6 separate regions of the Homo sapiens genome follow, and all the other regions are linked to region 6. Evidence: fine-mapped expression QTL. A gene starts in region 6. Each other region holds a variant in brackets. All regions are shown on one strand. Distances are between the middles of the regions.

Region 1 (4,108 bases), 52 kb after region 6:
CTAAAAATAAAGAAAGAAAGAAAAGTAGGCTTTTAATTCAGTGATGTGCTATGGAAAGATTTTCCTTATGGAGGACAAACACATCAATGGCAGGTATTAGTAGTGTATCAAAACCATAGTGATCTCTAAAAAAAATTATTAATAGTAGTGAAAAAGTCTCTATTAGAAAGCAACACATTGGAAATTTAAGAGCTGATGTCATCTTTAAATATTTTTGACAAATTCGCAAGTTTTCATTAAACTTGTGTTTATCCAACATTCTCTGAACTAAACTGATACACTGAATAAGGTTTATATGATTCTCTCCATATAAAAACTTTCCTATATTCCCAAATTAAATCATATTTCTCTTTCTTTCTCTGTCCTACTAAAGATGGTTTCCACTGTCCTACTGGACTGAGTTATTTACTGAGTCTTTTGTCAGTTACTGTCAGTAAAATATTTTAATGACTTAAGACCTTGGTGGTCACAAAGTTATTGTAAATTTTTCAGTTACATGGTTTCCTTGGTGAGTTTACCTAGTTCCTAACAAAAATTAGGCATGGTGGTGTTATGGTGCATGGGCATAGTGGTCCCAGCTACTTGGGAGTCTGAGGCGGGGGGATCACTTGAGCCCAGGAGTTGGAGGCTATAGCGTGCTGTGATTATGCCTGTGAACAGTCACTGTACTCCAGGCCTGGGCAACCCAACAAGACCCCATTTCTTAAAAACACACACACATATATATTTGCTTCATTAAAATACTGTTGATCATGGCTGACAAGTTATTATTGTCTCTCTATTAAAGAGAGAGACAACAAGGTGGGGGAGAATGTCAGGAGGAGCCCAAGCCCAATGCAATCACTTAAATCCAAATGCAACTGGAAAAAGAATACCAGAAAAGCAGAATGGAATTCATGGACCTAAAGAGAAAATGCTGAATGCATCATCTTGGTAAATAAAAGCCCTGTTACGCACTGGGGTCCCTTAGCAAAGGATCTTTCACCCAGAAGATACACAGAGAGTCAAGCCACGTAACTCCAAGGCCAGCATTTCTCCCACTTACCACTTCTGGCTGGCCACGCCTCACGGGGGAGCAGGAGCTGCAACACTGGATGGCACAAAGCCCTAGCAAACTGACTCATGACAGTCAGACTGTCTGGCAAAGGGGAGAGATGCTTACTTGGATATCACAGGAGAAGATGGTCTCTTAGGAATGCCTCCAGAAAACTCACATCTTCTCAGAGGGGACCCGAAGTTCACAACAGGAAGAGAAGTTGCTGTTCGTTGCCCCCGCTTCACCTTCTCCACCTGTAGGGGACACAGGATAGCCACAGTCCATGACTGGCACTACTTCCACAATTTATAAGACTAATACCCCAGATGGAACAATGCACAGCTTTCTTTCAGAGGGATCGATATGAAGCTATAACGCTTCACATGACAGGCATCTTTGCGGGGAGGCAGGATGAGGTCATCACATTTGCATTATCCAGTTAAAAAAAATCAGCCTCAAAATGCAAAGATTTCCTTCTCCTTGTTGTCTTTCAAAGAGTTAACAACTGAACCATATTACGGTCTTAGACATATAGGAACTGAAAAGAGTATAAAAATGTAAAAT[C/G]ACTACAAAAAAATTACAGGTGGGTGAAAATGTGGTTACAACATCCAAGACAGTGAGCTGTGGCCCCTGATGGTATACATGGTATAATGGGTCTGCAACCCCATCTAGTCCTGTAGGTCTTCCCATTACCTCCTTTGGCAGAAGGGAACAGACATCAGTGCCCAGCCTGCAGAAAGTGCTCCACAAGGGTTAGCTCCCTTCTCTCCCTATCACACTTTTCTGCAGCAAGTCCTCAATTGGCCCCCACACTCACATCCATCAATCCCTTTCAACACTAATCCACTGTATAGTAAAATCCGAGAGTCTAAAACATGCACTTCTAAGAGCCACAACAGATTTGAAAAGAAAATATGGCATTATAAAATGAAGTAGTTTTGAAATAAGTCCTGACATTATTTGATATTCCTCCCTTCGACAGGTGAGGCTTAATTCCTCTCCTCTTGAGTGTGGGTTGATCTTAGTGACTTACTTAAAGGACACTGCAGCTTCCCGATAGCTTGCTTGGAGGGAAGCCAGCTGTGGCATCATTTGGATACTCAAGCAGCTTTATGGACAGGCCCATGCAGTGAGGAACCGAGGCCTCCTGCCAACAGCCATGAATGAGCCGTCTCAGATGAGGCCCAGCCATGCTTTCAGATGATGCAGCCCTGGCCAACATCTTGACCACACCTCATGAAAGACCTTGTACCAGAACCACTAAGTCACTCTGAATTTCTGACCCAAAGAACCCATGAATTAATAGATATTTGTTATTTTAAGCTGCCAAGGTTTGAGGTGATTTGTTAAGTAGCAATCAATAACTAACAAAAGTAGTATGGCACTGTGTAATTTCTAAATAAATAGACACAATTGGGGGTGCCTTCTCAACATTTAATTTACTGATAGTGCCAGTATGCCATCAAAAATGTTTAAGCTTGGCATAGTAACATGTGCCTGTAGTCCCAGCTACTCAGGAGGCTGAGGCAGGAGGATTACTTGAGCCTAGGAATTCAAGGTCAGCCTGGGCAACATAAAAAGACTTCATCTCAAAAGAATATTTAATGATTACTTTTGTAGGTAAAAGTTGACGTAGATCCTCAGTTCCACTTAGATGCACGGGCAAGACTGACCCAGAATCAGATATCCGTAACGAGGAAGACAGAGGATATTTAGAACATTCCTTCTGACTCCTGTCCTCTGGAGGGCAGGCTGTGACAAGGACATCATTAAGAATTTGCTCCAAGGTACTAAGACTTAAGAGGGTGCAAAAAGTTAAATGATTTTCAAAGGTTGGGTAAAATTTTGAACTAAATCTACCCTTTCCTGCTTTGAGCAGTCCCAGGAGATTGATGGAAACAGACAGCCCAGGTCAAGCACAGAAGTAATCACACCATCAGACAGAACACAGTCTAGAGGAGTGAGTGGGTGGGTGGTTTTAAACCTACCAGAGAGGCCTCTCCTCCTGAAAGGGCTTCTTTCCCAACATCTCCTGCACCAGATGTAGACGTAGATGTAGCTTTCTTCTTCTCAATGTTTCGAGTGGGTGAAGACTTGTAAGAAGGGTTAAGAGGGCCAAGAGGAGCTAAACGAGGACAGACATGGAATACTAGAAAGTTACAGTATAACAGCCAGAAGGACAGAGAGTACAGATGGAAAAAGTAGAGCAGAGAGTTGGGAAGAACACATTTCTGTTAAAATATGACCTGGGCAATCAATATCATACTTTTCTATTGTACACAGGATGGATCTTACCCTAAAAAGGCTCCCATACTCAAGAGTCAAGTTTATTCAAGTTTATTTCAGGGGTTAAAAGTCTGTACTTTGGAGCCACAGAGACCTAGCACTGCCACCTAATAGCTGGATCACCTTGGGCAGGTTACTTAACCTCTCTAAACATCGATTTCCTTGTGCACAAAAGGGTTAACATAGCAGATCTGACTGCTGTGCTTGGAAAGGCCTGCTTATAAGGGTGGCCCTTGGCTGGCATCTGAGAACTTAGATTTCAGGAGGGTTCCCACCATTAACTGATGGGTGTCTAAACTGTTTATACAAACAGTATGGTTTATGCTAAGCATCTGCTTTTCTTGTGGGAGTGTGGAATCTGGGTATGTGCCTGGGAGGGGATGCCTACATATCTAGCCCCCAGTAAAAACCCTGGGCACTGAGTTTCTAGCCAACTTCCCAGCCTGGCAACATTTCATACATGTTGTCACAATGTGTTGGTAGAGGAATTAAGCTCGTCCCATGTGACTCCACTGGAAGAAGACTCTTGGAAATCCACACCTGGTTACTTCTGAACTTAGTCCCATGCACCTCCTCCATTTGCTAGTTTTTTCATGTTTCCTCCTGCTATAATAAATCATAGCCATGGGCCGGGCATGGTGGCTCACCTGAGCTTAGGAGGTTGAGACCAGCCTTGGCAACATGGTGAAACCACAGCCCTTCAAAAAATACAAAAATTAGCTTGGCATGGGGGCACACTCCTGTAGTCCCAACTACTCTGGAGGCTGAGGCAGGAGGATCGCTTGA
Region 2 (4,108 bases), 50 kb before region 6:
CTCCTGCCTCAGCCTTCCGAGTAGCTGGGATTACAGGTGCACGCCATCACACCCCGCTAATTTTTTCTATTTTTAGTAGACACGGGGTTTCACCATGTTGGCCAGCCTGGTCTTGAACTCCTGACCTCAAGTAATCCATCCACCTTGGCCTCCCAAAGTGCTGGGATTATAGGCGTGAGCCACCGTGCCCAGCCAGGAATATTGAAGTACATGTGGTTCCTGGCACAAAGCAATCTCTCCTGCTTCTACACCTTTGCATGTGCAGTTCCTTCTGTGACCATTTCCTTCTACTTAGATTAACTTAAAGATTTAGATCCATTTGTACCTCTTCAAGGAAGAGTTTCCTAAACCCTTCTGAGGTGAACTAGGTACTCCCTGCTATGTGCCCATGTAGCATTTTTAGGTCTTAACACCTATCATTCCGTATTTGTAACTACTGGTGTACCTGTCTGTTTAACGGAACAAGTTGCTATTCCTTCAGAGGAAGCAATGTGGATGATTCGTTTTGTGGCCCCAGCTCTGATCCCAGAATCTGACATGAAATAGACACTCGGGGTTTTTTAAATGTTAAAAAGGCCTATGCTTTGTCAAAATGCTCACGACAGTAGATCAAAAGAGTAAAGTGCAAAGTTGTATATTGAGGATAATTTCAATTATTTAAAATATACACATATGTGCCCAGAAAAAATAAATGACAAGAAATGTACTAAATATTAACAGTGGTCATCTCTGACTGGTAAAATTAGGAATGCCTTATATTTTTGATTTTATACTTTATTATATTTTTCCAAATGATTACCATTAGTGTGTATGACTACTTCTACAAACAAAGCAATGGATTTTTTAAAATTCTCTTTGCAAAGCATATATCTGATGAGGGAGCTGTATCCAGAATATATAAAGAACTCCTACACCTCAACAACAAAAATACTTTGATTTTAAAATGGGCAAAGGATTTGAATAGAAATTTCTCCAAAGACATACCAATGGCCAATAAGCACATAGAAAGATGCTCAACATCATTAGTCATTAGAGAAATGCAAATCAAAACCACAATGAGACACCACTTTACACTAACTAGGATGGCTATAACCAAAAAGATGACAATACCAATATGCATAACATCACTATTTACAATAGCCAAAGGGTGAAAGCAATACAAATGTCCACAGAAAAACAGATAAACAAAATGTAGTACAGCCATACAATGGAATATTATTCAGCCTTAAAAGAGAATGAATTTTTTAAAAAAGGAATGAAATTCTGACACATGATACAACATGAATTGACCCTGAAAACACTATGCTAAGTGAAATAAGCCAGAGACAAAACGACAAATATTGTCTGATTCTACTTATATCAGATACCCACAATAGGCAAATTCATATAGACAGAAAGAATAGAGGTTACCAGGGGCTGCAGAGAGGAGAGCATGAGGAGTTACTGTTCAATGGAAACAGACTTTCTGTTTGTGAAGATGAAAAAGTTCTGGAAGTAGATAGTGGTGGTGATTGTACAACACTGTGAATATACTCAATGTCAATGAATTTTACACTTAAAAATGGTTAAAATGGTAAATTTAGGATATGTATATTTTGCCACAATACAAAAATTAAATCCTTTGATATTTGATTTTTGACCAGGCAAATGAATGCTCAGATTAAAGAATCTATTTCCCAGCTGCCCTGCAGCTAGGCATGGCCATGGGACTAAATTTTGGCCAAGTTATCATGTGTAAATTTCAAGAAGTCTTTATTTTTTATTTATTTATTTATTTTTTTTTTTTTATTATACTTTAAGTTTTAGGGTACATGTGCACATTGTGCAGGTTAGTTACATATGTATACATGTGCCATGCTGGTGCGCTGCACCCACTAACTCATCATCTAGCATTAGGTATATCTCCCAATGCTATCCCTCCCCTAACCCCACCACAGACCCCAGAGTGTGATATTCCCCTTCATGTGTCCATGTGATCTCATTGTTCAATTCCCACCTATGAGTGAGAATATGCGGTGTTTGGTTTTTTGTTCTTGCGATAATTTACTGAGAATGATGATTTCCAATTTCATCCATGT[C/T]CCTACAAAGAACATGAACTCATCATTTTTTATGGCTGCATAGTATTCCATGGTGTATATGTGCCACATTTTCTTAATCCAGTCTATCATTGTTGGACATTTGGGTTGGTTCCAAGTCTTTGCTATTGTGAATAATGCCGCAATAAACATACGTGTGCATGTGTCTTTATAGCAGCATGATTTATAGTCCTTTGGGTATATACCCAGTAATGGGTTGGCTGGGTCAAATGGTATTTCTAGTTCTAGATCCCTGAGGAATTGCCACACTGACTTCCACTATGGTTGAACTAGTTTACAGTCCCACCAACAGTGTAAAAGTGTTCCTATTTCTCCACATCCTCTCCAGCACCTGTTGTTTCCTGACTTTTTAATGATTGCCATTCTAACTGGTGTGATATGATATCTCATAGTGGTTTTGATTTGCATTTCTCTGATGGCCAGTGATGATGAGCATTTTTTCATGTGTTTTTTGGCTGCATAAATGTCTTCTTTTGAGAAGTGTCTATTCATGTCCTTTGCCCACTTTTTGATGGGGTTGTTTGTTTTTTTCTTGTAAATTTGTTTGAGTTCATTGTAGATTCTGGATATTAGCCCTTTGTCAGATGAGTAGGTTGCGAAAACTTTCTCCCATGTTGTAGGTTGCCTGTTCACTCTGATGGTAGTTTCTTTTGCTGTGCAGAAGCTCTTTAGTTTAATTAGATCCCATTTGTCAATTTTGGCTTTTGTTGCCATTGCTTTTGGTGTTTTGGACATAAAGTCCTTGCCCATGCCTATGTCCTGAATGGTAATGCCTAGGTTATCTTCTAGGGTTTTTATGGTTTTAGGTCTAACGTTTAAATCTTTAATCCATCTTGAATTGATTTTTGTATAAGGTATAAGGAAGGGATCCAGTTTCAGCTTTCTCCATATGGCTAGCCAGTTTTCCCAGCACCATTTATTAAATAGGGAATCCTTTCCCCATTGCTTGTTTTTCTCGGGTTTGTCAAAGATCAGATAGTTGTAGATATGTGGCGTTATTTCTGAGGGCTCTGTTCTGTTCCATTGATCTGTATCTCTGTTTTGGTACCAGTACCATGCTGTTTTGGTTACTGTAGCCTTGTAGTATAGTTTGAAGTCAGGTAGTGTGATGCCTCCAGCTTTGTTCTTTTAGCTTAGGATTGACTTGGCCATGCGGGCTCTTTTTTGGTTCCATATGAACTTTAAAGTAGTTTTTTCCAATTCTGTGAAGAAAGTCATTGGTAGCTTGATGGGGATGGCATTGAATCTGTAAATTACCTTGGGCAGTATGGCCATTTTCACGATATTGATTCTTCCTACCCATGAGCATGGAATGTTCTTCCATTTGTTTGTATCCTCTTTTATTTCCTTGAGCAGTGGTTTGTAGTTCTCCTTGAAGAGGTCCTTCACATCCCTTGTAAGTTGGATTCCTAGGTATTTTATTCTCTTTGAAGCAATTGTGAATGGGAGTTCACTCATGATTTGGCTCTCTGTTTGTATGTTGCTGGTGTATAAGAATGCTTGTGATTTTTGTACATTGATTTTGTATCCTGAGACTTTGCTGAAGTTGCTTATCAGCTTAAGGAGATTTTGGGCTGAGACAATGGGGTTTTCTAGATATACAATCATGTCGTCTGCAAACAGGGACAATTTGACTTCCTCTTTTCCTAATTGAATACCCTTTATTTCCTTCTCCTGCCTGATTGCCCTGGCCAGAACTTCCAACACTATGTTGAATAGGAGTGGTGAGAGAGGGCATCCCTGTCTTGTGCCAGTTTTCAAAGGGAATGCTTCCAGTTTTTGCCCATTCAGTATGATATTGGCTGTGGGTTTGTCATAGATAGCTCTTATTATTTTGAAATACGTCCCATCAATACCCAATTTATTGAGAGTTTTTAGCATGAAGGGTTGTTGAATTTTGTCAAAGGCTTTTTCTGCATCTATTGAGATAATCATGTGGTTTTTGTCTTTGGCTCTGTTTATATGCTGGATTACATTTATTGATTTGCGTATATTGAACCAGCCTTGCATCC
Region 3 (4,000 bases), 82 kb before region 6:
TACTTTAGATGTATTATGGGATTGAGCAAATGATTAAATCGTTTGATGTTGGGAGCCAGGGTTCTCACTGTGGAGGAAGGGACATACAAATATCAAACAGGAGAAGGCAAGGAAGAATCCTATGGAGATGGATGGTAGGTGCCAGTGTGACCTCATCATTTCTAAAATATGTATATATATGCATGTATGTGTGTGTGTGTGTTTCCTAGATATGGCTGCTGAAAATGCTTATAAGCAAAGACACTCCAGTAGCAATGGGCACTAGGGCCCAAGTCTTGGACTCTAATACCATCCCCCACTAAAAGGAACCAGGACTCCTTAGAAAAATGAATGATTTCAAGCCTGGGGCAGGGAATGTCCAAGATAAAGACCAAAACATTTTGTTATGCATCAGAGCAAAGAAGTGCTAAAAAGAAATGATAGGTGCATATCACAATTTGCAATTGCAAAAATATGGAACCAGCTCAAATGCCCATCAGTCAACGAGTGGATGAAGAAAATGTGGTACACACACACACACACACACACACACACACACACACACAATGGAATACTACTGAGTCATAAAAAGGAATGAAATAACGAAAAAGGAATGAAATAATGGCATTCGTAGCAACCTGGATGGAATTGGAGACTTTTTTTTTTTGAGACAGAGTCTCACTCTGTCACCCAGGCTGGAGTGCAGTGGTGTGATCTCACCTCACTGCAACCTCCACCTTCTGGGTTCCAGTGATCCTCCTGCCTCAGCTTCCCAAGTAGCTGGGATTACAGGCATGAGCCACCACGCCCAGCTAATTTTTTTTTTTTTTTTTTGTATTTTTAGTAGAGACGGTGTTTCTCCATGTTGTCCAGGATGGTCTCGAACTCCTGGCCTCAGGTGATCCACCCACCTCAGCCTCCCAAAGTGCTGGGATTACAGGCATGAGCCACTGCACCTGGCTGGAGACTATTACTCTAAGTGAAGTAACTCAGGAATGGAAAACCAATATTGTATGTTCTTACTCATGCGTGGGAGCTAAGCTATGAGGATGCAAAGGCATAAGAATGATACAATGGACTTTGGGGACTTGAGGCAAAGGGTGGGGGGTGGCAAGGGATACTGTAGATTGGTTACAGTGTACACTGCTTGGTGATGGGTGCGCCAAAATCTCAGAAATCACCACTAAAGAACTTATTCACGTAACCAAACACCACCTGTTTCCCAAAAACCTACTGAAATAAAAAAGATAAAGTCAAAAAAGGAATGATAGGTCCATATCAAGAGGACACAGCAATCAGCTTAAAGGGGCTCCCACTGGCCAAAGCTAGGATCATTTGAGCTCCCAAATAATCAAGGACAATAATGAATTATAAGCCACTGAAAAAGTAGAAATGAATCCATATCAATAATAAATAGACAAATAAGCAGGGAAGAAGGGAGGAGTCTTGCTTACAGCAGAATGCCAATGCCAGCTGGTAAGTGTAGAGGGAGCACTGGAGTTAGAAAATCATCATTTTGCCACCATAGCCATGAAGATTGGTTTGGACCAAAATCATCAACATGCCTGGGCATGATGGCTCGCACCTGTAATCTCAGCACTTTGGGAGGCCAAGGTAGGAGGATTGCTTGAGGTCAGGAGTTCAAGACCAGCCTGGACAACATAAGGAGACCCCCCCACCGCCCCCCACCATCTCTTAAAAAAAAAAAAAGCCAGGTGCAGTGGCATGCACCTGTGGTCCCAACTACTCGGGAGGCTGATGTGGGAAGATCGTTTGAGCCCAGGAGGTTGAGATTGCAGTCAGCCATGATTGTGCCACTGCACTCCAGCCTGGGCAACAGACGGAGACTCTGTCT[CAA/C]AAAAAAAAAAAAAAAAGAAAAGAAAAGAAAAGAAAAGAAAGAAAGAATGGAGGCCCTCTTTAAAAACCAGAATGGTCTTCATTTTGGGTTTGTCTGATGATTCTTTATGATTATATTCAAGTGCTGCATTCCCAGCCAACATACCATATTAGTGATGCTGTGTTATCTATTGTTAGCAGTGGAGAATCCATATCCGTGTCACACGGCACCAAAATATCTTCCGGCAATGAACCTGTACGGGTCTGCAGCAACCTCAATTACTGCCTCCTCAGAAGAAAAAATTGGACTGAGAGGCATAAGGCAGAAGGAGAGATGGAGGCAAGTTTTAGAGCAGGAATGAAAGTTTATTTAAAAAGTTTAGAGCAGGAATGAAATGAAGTATACTTGGAAGAAAGCCAAGCAGTCGACCTGAAAAGCAAGTGCACGGTTTGACCTTTTGACTTGGGGTTTTATAGGTTGGCATACTTCTGGGGTCTTGCGTTACTCCTCCCAACTCCTGAGATCTTATCGGGAAGCTGCTGATCACCATTATTTTAGAGAGACAGTTAACCACCGCCTGACTATCACCTGATGGTTGCCTGACACTCCTGGTATGTGGGTCGGGGGAGCCCTCTCCTGCCCTGCTCATACCAGACTAGCTACCCACTGTAACAGTATCACACTGATGTCCATCTGCTCCTCCTTGGTGATGTTAATTTCCATCCCCTAGTCAAGGAGTTGTCTGTTCTTTCCACTGTATAATTGCTGTTTTTCCTTCCTGCCTTGCAATAAATAAGCGATCTGTGAGAAGACACTTTTACACATTGAAATGTCCTGCTCATCAAAATTGCCTCATATATTTAGTATCTATTGATGACTCTATTTTTTTTTTTTTTTTTTTGCCTTAAGTGATCTTCCTGCCTCAGCTTTCCTAAGTGCTGGGATTACAGGCATGAGCCACCATGCCTGGCCAAAATATATATATATTTAATTATCATGGATACATAATAGTTGTATATATTTGTAGGCAACATGTGATATTTTGATATAAGCATACAATGTGTAATGATCACATCAGGGTAATTGGGATATGCATCACCTTAAGCATTTATTATTTGTGTTAGAAACATTCCAGTTCCAGCTGGGTGCCGTGGCTCACGCCTGTAATCCCAGCACTTTGGGAGGCCAAGGCGGGTGGATCACTTGAGGTCAGGAGTTTGAGACCAGCCTGGCTAATATGGTGAAACTCCATCTCTACTAAAAATACAAAAATTAGCTGGGCATGGTGGTGCATGCCTGTAATCCCAGCTACTCCAACAGCTGAGGCAGGAGAATCACTGGAACCTGGAAGGCGGAGGTTGCAGTGAGCCAAGATTGCCACTGCACTCTAGCCTGGGCGACAAGGGGAGACTCCGTCTCAAAAAAAAAAAGAAAAGAAAAAAAAAAGAAACATTCCAGTTCCACTCTTTCCTTTTGAATGGATAAAGGAAACATGGTGCATATACACAATGGACTATTATTCAGCCATAAAAATAATGAAATCCTGTCATTTGCAACAACATGGATAGAAACTGGAGGACTTATGTGAAGTCAAATAAGCCAGGCACAGAAAGACAAATATCACATGGTCTCACTCATATGTGAGAGCTAAAAAAAAAACACACACACACAAAACCTGAATTCATGGAGCTAGAGTAGCATGGTTACGAGGCTGGGAAGGGTGGTGGGGAGGGGCGGGTAAGGAGGAGATGATTAATGGGTACAAAAATAGGTTGATACATGGAGTAAGACCTAGTGTTCCATAGCATAATAGGGTGACTATAATTCACCTCCAAGCCTCTTAGTGAAAAGGAAAATTACAAGACCTCTGTTCTCGAAATGCTAAGAATTTGAAGTGGAAAAAGGTGAACTAAAGTATTGGTAGAAATGCCCATACGGAAAAATAGGTAGAATGTGGATCAATGGCAGGGAGGGAAGAGGCTGGGGAGGTGAATGAATACGCCAAGGCTTGGGGTCAGAAGGAAGCCCACCGAGGGTGGCCAATGACACGTCTTCTCACATAGCACCTGGCCCAGAGCAGATGCACAGAGCCTGATGGTTCATCCCTGCATCTTCAGGAAACCATGAAACAAAGGTCTCCTGGGAGAGCTGCTGGGAGACAAGGTTGGGTAGTAGAAAACCTGA
Region 4 (4,108 bases), 93 kb before region 6:
TGGGGGAATTGAGGAGTGACAGCTAATGGGTACAGGGTTTCATTTTGCGGTGACAAAACGTTCTAAAATTGATTGTGTTGATGGTTCCACAACTCTGTGAATATACTAAAAACTGTTGAATTATACATTTTAAAATGGGTGAATTGCCAGGCACAGTGGCTCACACCTATAATCCTAGCACTTTGGGAGGCCGAGACGGGTGGATTGCCTGAGGTCAGGAGTTTGAGACCAGTCTGGCCAACATGGTGAAACCCTGTCTCTACCAAAAATACAAAAATTAGCTGGGCATGGTGGTGTGCGCCTGTAGTCCCAGCTACTCGGGAGGCTGAGGCAGAAGAATCACTTGAACCCAGGAGGCAGAGGTTGCAGCAAGCCGAGATTGCACCACTGCACTCCAGCCAGGCAAAAGAGCGAGACTCCGTCTCAAAAAAAAAAAAAAAAAAAGTTAATTATGTGATATGCAAATTATATCTCAATAAAAGCTGTTAAAGATTTTAAAAGAGTGATCATGGTTACAGCATTTCAGTATGGGAAGATGCAAATGTTCTGGAGATGGATGGTTGTGATGGTCGCACAACAATGTGAATGTATTTAATGCCACTGAACTGTACATTAATAAATGGTTAAAATGGCAAATTTTGTTATGTATATTTTAGTACCAAAAGAGAATGAATACATATGTGATTGGTGGGTTATATGGGGCTGGGTGGGGACGATATTCCCTGTGTTTTAACTCCTCCAATAATACCCCCACACTGCTTCCCAAACAGGAAATCAGAATTACAATAACCACCACCCCATCACCTCGGGGTTCAGAGAAACCAAGACCAGTGGCCTGAGCTGACGGTGAAACGCCACAGCCATCCCCTAGATTGTGAAGGCCCCAAAGCAGACAGCCAACCTCAGATGCATCCTCAAGCCCGAGGCTATGGGACTTAATTGAAAAGTCTCTGAACCAGGCGGTCACTTAATAAGAGATGGCACAACCCTTTTCTAGCACGACTTCTTATTAAATAGAGTCAGTCAAATCAAGTTCCTCTTCTCAAAAATAATTACAGACCAGCCAGAGGCAAAAGTGGGAAGTAAGTCAAGTTCATCTTCTTTGTTTTGCTTGCCAGCCCTGGGTTAAGGATTCTATTCCCCAGCTGAAGTTTTCTTTTCTGGACCACAGAAGCTCTCAAAGTGTGGTCCCCAGCCCAGCAGCAGCAGCATGTGGGAACCTGTTAGAGATGCACGCTGGGGACCCCGCCCCAGGCCTTCCGGGTCAGGAACTCTGGGGCTGGGACCCAGTAACCTGTGTTTTGATCAGCAGCTCAAGTGTGAGAATCCCCGCTGTACCTCAACTCCTCAGAGCCAAGGTGAACGCTCTGTCATCTGATGAACTGCTTGGTCCTTGGCAATGAAAACGGGCTCAAGGGAGCTACCAGTGAGGCATAGCCCTGAACTGGTAAAACTGACTTGATGTTTTGCGATATATATTCATATCATTATCATTAGAAAAGTAATCTCTGCTCAGTATTTTAAAAAATAAAACAGGCCAGGCACAGTGGCTCATGCCTGCAATCCAAGCACTTTGGGAGACTGAGGCAGGAGGATTGCTTAAGCCTAGGAGTTTAAGACCAGCCAGGACAACATAGTGAGATCCCATCTCTACAAAAATAAAATAATAAAAAATCAGCCAAGCATGGTGGCACGCACCTGCAGTCCCAGCTACTCGGGAGGCTGAGGTGGGAGGACTGCTTGCGCCTAGGAGGTCGAGGCTGCAGTGAACCATGATCACATCACTGTCCTCCAGCTTGAGTGACAGAACAAGACCCTGTCCCAAAAATAAACTAAACTAAAATAAAATATTAAGGATACAGTGTATAAGGTGAAAATCTTCCATCATCTCACAATTACCAATTACTGCAGAGATAATTGATAATCACTGTTAACTCTTGAAGGAATATTCTTCCAGACATTTTTTAAAGTGTGTAATGATACTAAGATATATGATGATTTCCACCTATTATCACTGTAATTTTTTGGAGCTAGTAATTCCTCTTTAGTGCTCTAATGATGGAAATTGAGAACACTGAAGAGGGGGTACTATTTTCCCTGGAGGACTCTCAAATCACCTTTTTCTTTTTTCCTAAATTTGAATGCATTTCATAATCTTCTTCTGGGAAGAAATTAGAATTCCTGAAAAAATGCTAAAGCAATTCTCTGATACTCTTTAATGAGATTAAGCCCTTGTCGGGGAGACTGCTCCCTCCACCCCCTGCCCCC[G/C]TCTCAGCTGACCTAAGGTCAGAAGTCTAGTGATGTTTAGCCAGACATTCTTTCACCTTGTGTCCAGTCTGACAATGATCATCTAACCATTCACTTCCCAGAAAATGTCCCAACCAAGGGGGAATAAGAGGGAATCTTGGGGCTGGGTGCGGTAGCTCATGCCTGTAACCTCAGCACTTTGGGAGGCCAAGGCGGGTAGATCCCCTGAGGTCAGGGGTTCAAGACCAACCTGGCCAACACGGCGAATCCCTGTATCTACTAAAAATACAAAAAAACTAGCCAGGCATGGTGGTGGGCACCTGTAATCCCAGCTACTTGGGAGGCTGAGGCAGGAGAATTGCTTGAACCCGGGAGGCGGAGGTTGCAGTGAGCTGAGATCGTGCTACTGCACTCCAGCCTGGGCGATAGAGACTCTGTCTCAAGAAAAGAAAAAAAAAAAAAGGGGGGGAATCTTGAAACAAAACTTTGACTTTGACATGTGTTCATAATTAAATTTTCTGAAAAGTTTTATATACGCCTCAGTCTTTCATAACTATAAACAACACACACAAAAACTATCAGATATGGACTAGACCTTTTCTCAGTGCCTGAATAAAGGAATGAAAAGGTTTGACCTGCCACAAAATAGTGTTATGGGTCTTTTGAAAGTCTCTCTGGGCAAAAAGGATAATCTTAAGATAACAATCGCTACCATTTATGGAGGAGGGGGCTGCGATACTCTTATCTGCTTTTAAATTCTCACAACAGTGTCAGTTATATGTTAGTATTAACATTGTACAAGGGAAGGAACTCAGGTTCCGAGAGGCTAAATGTCATGCCCAATCAATGTTCTTTAGCAGGAGAGAGCAGGCTTGGGAATGTAAAGTCAGCTGTGTCTGATTCCATTAGAAATGATGACATCGTCTGAAATTGGACAAAACAGCTCATTTGTTTTCATGGTTTAGAACTCTATTCAATGGTCTTAATATAAAATGTCAATGGATCTTCGTGAGTGTTTTGCTTGGTATGAAATCTGTATACACATAAAATGCTCATGGTATAACACTAAGTGATAAAACGGCTACACACACATCCCCAGTTGCTTTTTTTTGTTTGTTTGTTTGAGACAAGGTCTCACTCTGTCACCCAGACTGGAGTACAGTGGTATGATCTTGGCTCACTGCAACCTCTGCCTCCCGATTTCAAGCAATTCTCCCGCCTCAGCCTGCCAAGTAGCTGGGATTATAGGCGCATGCCACTACCGCCCGGCTAATTTTTGTGTTTTTAGTAGAGACAGGGTTTCACCATGTTGGCCAGGTTGGTCTTGAACTCCTGACCTCAAATGATCCACCTGCCTTAGCCGCCCAAAGTGCTGGGATTACAGGCATGAGCCGCCCGCCCCCCAGTTGCCTTTTTTTTTTTTTTTTGAGACGGAGTCTCACTCTGTCGCCCAGGTTGGAGTGCAATGGCGTGATCTCGGCTCACTACAACCTCCTCCTCTCAGGTTCACGCCATTCTCCTGCCTCAGCCTCCCCAGTAGCTGGGACTACAGGTGCCCGCCACCAGGCCTGGCTAATTTTTTTATTTTTACTTTTAGTAGAGACGGGGTTTCACTGTGTTACCCAGAATGGTCTCGATCTCCTGACCTCATAATCGGCCCACCTCAGCCTCCCACAATGCTGGGATGACAGGTGTGAGCCACCGCGCCCAGCTCCCAGTTGCCTTTTAACTTAAAAAATACATTAAAAGCTTTGCAAGCAAATACTCCAAAAGGTTAAAAGGTCATCCTAAAGCCATGCGGCTGTTGTTGATCCGTTTTCCTTCTATTTTCTGAGCCAGCAGAGCATAGAGGTGTCTATGC
Region 5 (4,108 bases), 42 kb before region 6:
CTCTCCCTTTACCACCCTGTCACAACCCCACTGTCCCCCTTTCTATTCCTTAAACAAAAGCAGGCATGCTGAAGGTCTTTGCTTTTGCTGTTCCCTCTCTTGAAATACTATCCCCTCAGATAACCCTATGGCTAACACCCTCACTTAATTCACAACCCAGCTACATTTTTTAAAAGTCATAAGTGTACTCCATGATCACCCTAAATAAAACCATATCACACATGTCACTCTTTGCTATTAAATTTCCTCTTCTGCCTTATTTTCACCTATCACTCCACTGACATGTATTTATTTTCTTTCTTCTGCTATTAAATTATAAGTAACACGAAGACAAAGGTTTGTATATAGTTTTTCACTATATCCCCAGTCCTTAGAACAGTAACTAGAACAAAGAAATCAATACATAAATATCTGTTGACTATATGAATATATCTTTATAAAGTTCACTCTACTTCAGTATAGATTATGACTACTGCAATAGCAAGAACAAAAACTGATGTTTTCCCGTAACCTGCCCAGCTAAAACGACAGTCTGTCGTTCCAACTCCTTGTTAAAAAATAAAAATAAAAAATAAAAGAAATTCTTGGCAGTTTGATGTCCTCTTCAAGTCCACTGATACTATTTTTAAGCTACTTTATCAAACACACTCCATACCTCTATAACAAAACAACTCATTTACATTGTAGGAAACTTAGTAACTCCAGTTAGAAAAGGCAGAAATAGTGTGTCAGGAGAAAACATGGAGACATCAGAGTAAGAAACGGGTAAGAAGTGGAAGTAAATCCAGACCGTCCCCAACTTACAATGGTTTAACTTACAGTTTTTTTTTTTTACTTTACAATGGGTTATTGGGATGTTGCCCTATCATAAGTTAAGGAGCACCTGTAGAGAACAGATGGGTCCTAGAGGCTAGACAGAACCCCCAAGTGTTAGGTGTGCTTGTGAAAGATCCTAAGGCATCAGGGAATAGTAACCCAAATCTAAATGTATTACAAGTTAGGTATCCTCTGTCTTGTCTACTCCTTTGGGAACTCTTCATTCATTCAACAAATATGAACTGAGCTCAGGGCAGTGGGGATACAACAGTGAGCAAACACAGACAGAAAGGCTGCATACAACTTTTTGAAGGAAAGCCACACAGGTGAGAAATCACTACATCCTATGACTTATGATTGCATCATGTTTCATTTCTTTCGTATTTCTGTGGAAACTACCCTGACTTGATTTTAAAAGTTTATATAAAAACATATAATGAGGTCAATTTTTATAAACTGAATTTCTAAGATAAAAGGATAATATATTTTTCTTATTTAAATAAGGAAACTGAATTAGGATAAAGTGAGAGATTAATAAGAAGAGTTGGCAACGATGTGGAGCAACTGGACCCTTCAGATGCTGCTGGTGGAAATGTAAAATAGCACAGCCGCTTTGGAAAACAGTCTGGCAGTTCCTCAAAAAGTTAATCATAGAGTAACCATCAAACTCATCAATTCCACTCCTAGCTATATACTGAAGAGAAACGAAAACAGGTATCTGCACAAAAACTTGCACACAAATGTTCACAGCACAGTTATTCACAAACAGACAAAAAGTGGAAACAACCCAAATGTCCATCAACTGGTGAATGGATAAAGAGAATACGATATAGCCATACAATGGAATATTATTCAGCCATACATAAGAATTCTCATGCTACAACATGGATGAGCGTTAAAAGCATTATGCTATAGGAAAGAAGTCAGTTACGAGAGGCCACATATTATATTATTGAATTTATATGAAATGTCAGGCCAGTTGTGGTGGCTCATGCCTGTACTCCCAGCACTTTGGGAGACTGAGTCGGGTAGATCCCTTGAGCACAAGAGTTTGAGACCAGCCTGGGCAACATGGTGAAACCCCGTCTCTACAAAAAAAAAATACGAAAAATTAGCCGGGTGTGGTGGCAGGAGCCTGTGGTCCCAGCTGCTCGGGAGGCCGAGGTGGGAGAATCACCTGAGCCTCACGGAAGGTTGAGGCTGCAGTGAGCTGTGATTGTGCCTCTGTACTCCATCCTGGGTGACAGAGAGAGATCCTGTCTCAAAAAAAAAAAAAGAAAAGAAAAATGATTATATGAAATGTCAGGATTAGACAAATCCATAGATACAGAAAATAGAACAGTAGTTGCCAGGGACTAAGGGGGAAGGAGAAATGGGGCAGGGAGTGGCAGCTAATGGGTAGAGGGTTTACTT[C/T]TGGGGTGATGAAATGTTTCGGAATTAGATAGTAATGATGGTTGCATAAGTTTGTTAATATACTAAAAACTACTGAATTGTTTATTTTTGCAGGATGAATGTTAAGTAATGTCTCATTTTTAAAAACTCCTCATGGCTCCACTATGCCTCACCACCTATCCAATACAAATAAAATAATCCAACAGACCCAGCAAAAGACAGCTTGTAGGAACACATCCTTGCACACTACCACACTGTCCTCAAAGCTAGCATTCATAATACTTAATGCTGACCAGCTACTCTACCTTACACTCATCACTTTACTTAATCTTAACCACCACTGTGAGGTAAGTACAACTCTTATCCCTATTTTACAGATGAGGAAACAGAGACAAAATAATTTTCCCAAAGTCAGTCACATAGCTAGGAATCCAAGAGCCAGCCACTGAACTCAGGTCCAACTCCAGTGCTCAAGTTCTTAATCACGTCAAGGGGTAAAGATACATCCTAAAGCATCTTATGATCTTTAAAATATGCTGATTGTCTTAAATCTGTTTTTAAAATCCTGTTTCTTGGTACTGGGTTTCTTACACTTGTTGAGTCAAGAAAAGCATGATAGAGAGCTTGTGTCATTAAGGAGCACAGTCATGTCATGCATTAACCATATCATATTAGGAGACTGGAGACTTTCACCCAGCAAGGGACAACATTTTTACTCTTTCATTTTCAATTGTTTTATATACCTCAACACATCGTTTCACTATGTTTTAATTAGTTCTGAATTTATTGTCAGCATCAAGTCCATATATTCTGACCTAGTTAGCTACAGACTTGACTTAAAAGTCTTGTCAAATACATTATCTTAGCAATTTGATAGAAAAGATTATGGAAAAACAATTAGCACTGTCTCTTTGTATTCATACAGTCTCACTTTTTGGGAGATCCAAGTAGTATAAGAACTCAAGTGAACTGGAAATGTTGTCCTGTTCAATTATACCTCATAATCATATGGGGCCCCAGAGTTGCCGTGAGTTCCATCCACATGGTGTTCAGAACTAGAGATAAACTGGGGTTGATCTAGACTACTAAGAGCCCCTAAACAGAAGTATGAGGTTAAGAAAGAAAAATCTACTGAGGATCTATTTGCCATATATGACATAAGTACTTCACATGTGCCAACTCGTTTAATACTCATAACTGCCCCATAGCATAAATTGATTTTATCATCATTTTACAGATGAAGAGGCTCCAGAGACTAAGCAAATTTGTCCAAGATCGGTCAGCTTGTAAACTGAGAGAGATGAGATTCAAACTTAGGTCTCCTCTGCATTTTCTACTACACCTGCCTCAATTTCATGGACGACATCCAAAAATGTGGATTTTTTTCACTTTTTGTCAGTACAGTGATCCACAATTATCCAGTATAGACATCCACAAAGAGTCGCAAAAGATAACTGTACTGACTTCAGGAAATTTTCTACTATTCAAAGACTAACCCAGAATCTAAAGGGCAGAATGTATCAGAGTTTCAATCAGCTCAAGCTAAATAGTCTGTAAACTTGCTGGTCCTGCCTCCTGCTAATATTCTAAAAGTGGTAACACTCCTCATCAGAATTACGAAGACCTCAAATATTCACCTACCCCATAGTTTTTGTTGTTTAAATCAAACCGCATATGAGAATCACTGAATAACCTGGAAACATTTTAATAGATTTCACTTAAACATATAAGATGGATTTGAAGGAGCAAATCCCTATATTAAAATGAAAATTATCATCACACAAAAAATGTAAAAATATGGTAAAACCCAAAGCTCCCTGATAACAGGATGTTTGTCATCTACTGATTACCTCTCTGCAGCACTAGCTATGTGAAAAATGTGCTCATCTTCATTCTGTAA
Region 6 (4,087 bases):
TAAAGGCGCAATAAAAGATGAGAAGCTGAAGTGCTATCAACAAATAAGAAAAAAGTGATGACTAGAGAGGGGTAGTTGTACTTGGTTGGAGAGTACAAGTATGGCTCAAAAGTATTCCTATAGAAATCCCTTTAAATGTTGCCTTTTGCTAGGGTGTGGGTAAGGACACTCACAGATTGTTGGTAGGAGTGCAAAACAGCATATCCTTTCCAGAGGGAAATTGAGCAATTCACATTAAAAAAAAAAAAACCCTTATGTGCATACTCTGCCCAATAATTCTATCATCTAGGAATGTACACTTAGAAAGTAATCATGGGCCGGGCGCGGTGGCTCACACCTGTAATCCCAGCACTTTGCGAGGCCGAGGCGGGCAGATCGCTGGAGGTCAGGAGTTTGAGACCAGCCTGGCAAATATGGTGAAACCCCATCTCTACTAAAAATACAAAAATTAGCCGGGCATGGTGGCACACGCCTGTAGTCCCAGCTACTCGGGAGGCTGACACAGGGGAATCACTTGAACCCAGGAGGTGGAGGTTGCAGTGAGCCGAGATCGTGCCACTACACTCCAGCCTGGGCGACAGAGTGAGATTCGAAAGTAATCATAGATATGCGGACTTTTACATTTACCCAACAATGTATTTTAATAGGGAAGAACTGAGAATGACCAATGAAATAAATTATAATATTACAGCCATATAATGGCATGCTATCTAGTCAGAAAAAGATAATTACAAAAGAGAATTCACTTTAGAAAAACTCATGTATTAAGCTCTGCATAGAAAAAGACTGGAGGTGTATAACCACATTCACAATGGTTACTTGGAATGGGGAAACCATATTCACCATGGTTACTTGGAACTTGGAATAGTGAAACAACGTATCTTCATTGTGATTTCTATCTTAGAAATGTGTATAAATGGCTAAATGTTCCTATATATAAAAATGTTTCTAATAAGACGTTTTAAAGGTTTCTTGGGGGTGACTGAAACAGCTGTGATTTCAAAATAAAATTTTAGTAGCCATTTAAAAAAAACATTAAAAATAAAACATTGCTATACCATTACCATTAAAATACCAATGAAAAATAAAGTCCTCGTTATGAATCTGCAGCAAAACCTTTCTTTTCAAATTCTGCTCTGTCGTTTGGACCTGTTCACATTCAGAAAAATGCTAAAAAGGCTGCCTGGCGAGGAGCCTAAAGAGGCCTTCCTGATTTCTACCTGCAGTTTGTAATTTGTTCCAGGAAAAAAAAAAAAAAAAAAAAAGGCAATCACCTAATAGGTAGTTCGAAAAGCACCTGAGTAGGAAAATATTTACGGGGTAGGTTTCTCTCCCATTTCTTTCCCTCGAGACCTACCAACAGGACAGTCCTGACAGCGACTGGCCCAGTTTCCCAATACAACCCAGAGAAGCACAGGAGATGCGCCAATTTTCAGGAGACGCTTCTAAAAAGACAAGTTTTACTTTACAATGCAGGATAATGAGCAGCCTTCACTACTCATTCTCGACGTTAACAGAGGAAGATGCCGCTGCGCGGCAGGAGCGCCTCACCAGGACAAAGCGGGGTACGGGGGGGTCCTCGGTTCAGGCCCCGCAGGCGACGCGTCCAGGGCCGCCTCGAGGACAAGGGCACCGTCCCCGGACACCGCCTTCCCGGCCCCCGCCCTCTTAACAGATGCAGGGAACCGCGGGGACCGCAACCTGCCCGACGACGGCGGAGGATCAGGGTCGCGGCAGCAGGTGCCCGGGTCGCCGTGCCTGTCGAGGGACCTCAGGGGCGCCGGGCAGCTGTCCCCTGGAAACCCGCGCCGGGTCGCCGCGCCCAAGGGAAGGCGCTGACCGAGGGACCTACGGGGCGCAGAGGAGCTGTCCCAACAGAACCCGAGTCGGACCGCCGCATCCTCCCCGCTGCCCCATCCGCCACCCCGAGAACCGCCCCTCCTGGGTGGCGGACACGCCCTCCCTGCGGGCCCAGGCCTCCTCGCCCCGCCTCCCCCCGAGCCGCTCACCCGGCCGGGAAGCCCCCGCCGCCGCCGCCGCCGCCGCCGCCGCCGCCGCCGCCGCCGCCGCCGCCGGCCCCTCGGGCCTCGCCCCTCACTCTGCCGCCGCCTCCCACAGCAGCGACACCCCAGCCACCTCTGCCGGGCCGCGGGACCCGGAACCACTTCCTTCCGGAACCGCCTCGCCCCGCCCCCACCCCGGCCCCGCCCACTGCTCGCGGCCTCGCACTGGGCCCGTTCTCCAGCCGACCCCTATCCTCTACTCTCCCGGCGAGGGTGCCCCGCCCGGGCTTCTCGGACCAGAGCGCTGCGCCCCCTGCCGGCCGTTCCCACTGCGGCCGCTCTGTCCAGGGCGCCTGCGCCCTCTGCCACCCGCCCGCCGGGTCCGGCTAGAGCGCCTGCGCCCTCTGCCGCCCTCTCGCCGGAAAGGAGGGGACCTAATGGGCGTTCCAGGTCCAGGGATCCTGGGGGTTAAGGCCCAGGGATTGGAGGTCACCCCTCAGTCATGGGCAGAACTTGATCCCGTGGGCCTTCCAGCTTTGTGCAGATCTCTAACCATTCACCTACCCTCTATCCATTTCCCACTCCTCAAATTAAGCATATTCCCGGAAAACAAAGCCTCCCCTCTGGACTTCCCAAATGGTCGGATGGTACCAACATCTATCCGTCATCCAATTCAAAAGATTGCCTCATCTCTGTCTACTCGCTTGGTTTCTCCCCTCCCACACTCCATGCACCAGCCTCAAAGGTAGTGTGTCTTCTTCACTCTTGAAGCTTTCCGCTTGACACTGATATTCTTTCTTCCCCTTGTGAAATAGCTCTTTCAGGCTCTGTGCCATCTGGTAGTAACACCTTTTGCCCTCCCTTGTCACTGTCACCTACTGACTGTCTGGCATTAGTTTTCCTCTCCATCTGATTTACTGCCATCCTCCCAATGAATCCAACATCCACAACCCAGCCTGGTTTCCTTCAGTTCCTCAATCCGAATGACCTTTACTTCTACTTTGTTCACCCGTAGTCTAGAAAATCTAGATATTCATCACTTGATACTGCTCCATCTCTAAAACCTTAAATGTTGAAATCCCACTACCCAACTTAAACCCATAGCCTTTGACTACAACCACTTTTTTATTTTTACTTATTTATTTATTTTGAGACAGAATCTCTGTCACCCATGCTGGAGTGCAGTGGTGTGATCTCGGTTCACTGCAACCTCTGCCTCCCGGGTTCAAGTGATTCTCCTGCCTCAGCCTCCTGAGTAGCTGGGATTACAGGCTGCGCCACCATGCCCGGCTAATTTTTTTTTTTTTTTTAGTAGAGACAGGGTTTCCCCATGTCGGCCAGGCTGGTCTCGAACTCCTGACCTCAGGTGATCCTCCCGCCTCAGCCTCCCAGAGTGCTGAGATTACAGGCGTGAGCCACAGCGCACGGCCTATTTATTTATTTAGAGATAGAGTCTGGCTCTTGTCACCCAGGCTGGAGTGCAGTGGTGCGATCTCGGCTCACTGCAACCTCTGCCTCCCAGGTTCAAGTGATCCTCCTGCCTCAGCCTCCTGAGTAGCTGGGATTACAGGTGTGCGCCACCATGCCCGGCTAATTTTTGTATTTTTAGTAGAGACGGGGTTTCACCATGTTGGCCAGGCTGGTCTCAAACTCCTGATCTCAAGTGATCCGCCTGTCTCAGCCTCTCAAAGTGCTGGGATGACAGGCATGAGCCACCGCGTCCCGGCCTTTTTTTGTTGTTTTTTTTTTTAAGAGTCAGGGGTCTCACTTGGTCGTGGTCCTGGCTGGAGTACAGTGGCATAATCATAGCTCACTGTAACCTCAAACTCCTGGGCTCAAGTGACACTCCTGCCTCAGCCTCTAGAGTAGCTGTTGCAACAGACGTGCACCACCATGCCCAGCTAATTAAAAAAAAAATTTTTTTTTGTAGAGACAGGGTTTCGCCATGTTGCCCAGGCTGTTCTGGAACTTCTAGGCTCAAGTGATCCTGCTGCCTCGGCCTCCCTAAGTGTTGGGATTACAGGCAGGAGCCACTGTGCCCAGCCTTCAACCACTCTTGTAAGCAGAGCCCCCTGCTTTGCCCT

Which allele goes with the higher level. Positions count from the first base shown, and alleles are read on the strand shown. Sizes are in standard deviations (SD) of each study's normalised expression. Not every link is listed here.
For the expression in prefrontal cortex of the gene that starts at base 2,163 in region 6, CAA is the high allele of the variant in region 3 and C is the other (small effect, 0.29 SD a copy in CommonMind).
For the expression in lung of the gene that starts at base 2,163 in region 6, C is the high allele of the variant in region 5 and T is the other (moderate effect, 0.55 SD a copy in GTEx).

What was found. PIP is the estimated chance that this variant, and not a neighbour inherited with it, causes the effect. A credible set is the group of variants that fine-mapping cannot tell apart.
Region 1: its variant is the best candidate, but not a certain one, in a credible set for the expression of BCLAF3 in whole blood (TOPMed, PIP 0.89).
Region 2: its variant is the best candidate, but not a certain one, in a credible set for the expression of BCLAF3 in monocytes (TOPMed, PIP 0.74).
Region 3: its variant is the best candidate, but not a certain one, in a credible set for the expression of BCLAF3 in prefrontal cortex (CommonMind, PIP 0.76).
Region 4: its variant is the best candidate, but not a certain one, in a credible set for the expression of BCLAF3 in esophagus muscle (GTEx, PIP 0.79).
Region 5: its variant is the best candidate, but not a certain one, in a credible set for the expression of BCLAF3 in lung (GTEx, PIP 0.86).

What each region holds. Positions count from the first base shown.
Region 1 is chrX:20,041,340-20,045,447 of GRCh38, forward strand. MAP7D2 (MAP7 domain containing 2) reads right to left here. Exons shown (of 17, transcript NM_001168465.2): 7 at 3,025-3,185; 8 at 1,163-1,290. Among named protein-coding and RNA genes, the nearest start is that of MIR23C, 26 kb to the left of the region's middle. The variant C/G (reference allele first, on the strand shown) is at 1,601.
Region 2 is chrX:19,938,503-19,942,610 of GRCh38, forward strand. The region is part of intron 8 of BCLAF3 (BCLAF1 and THRAP3 family member 3); the gene reads right to left. Among named protein-coding and RNA genes, the nearest start is that of BCLAF3, 51 kb to the right of the region's middle. The variant C/T (reference allele first, on the strand shown) is at 2,079.
Region 3 is chrX:19,906,514-19,910,513 of GRCh38, forward strand. No RefSeq gene overlaps it. Among named protein-coding and RNA genes, the nearest start is that of SH3KBP1, 21 kb to the left of the region's middle. The variant CAA/C (reference allele first, on the strand shown) is at 1,835.
Region 4 is chrX:19,896,267-19,900,374 of GRCh38, forward strand. No RefSeq gene overlaps it. Among named protein-coding and RNA genes, the nearest start is that of SH3KBP1, 11 kb to the left of the region's middle. The variant G/C (reference allele first, on the strand shown) is at 2,269.
Region 5 is chrX:19,946,695-19,950,802 of GRCh38, forward strand. It overlaps BCLAF3 (BCLAF1 and THRAP3 family member 3), which reads right to left. Exons shown (of 12, transcript NM_001367774.2): 8 at 4,059-4,108. Among named protein-coding and RNA genes, the nearest start is that of BCLAF3, 42 kb to the right of the region's middle. The variant C/T (reference allele first, on the strand shown) is at 2,230.
Region 6 is chrX:19,988,899-19,992,985 of GRCh38, forward strand. It overlaps BCLAF3 (BCLAF1 and THRAP3 family member 3), which reads right to left and starts at 2,163. Exons shown (of 12, transcript NM_001367774.2): 1 at 2,010-2,163. LOC729609 (a long non-coding RNA gene) reads right to left here and starts at 881. Exons shown (of 2, transcript NR_024440.1): 1 at 788-881. RefSeq lists silencers at 1,546-1,915, 1,986-2,035, 2,076-2,505.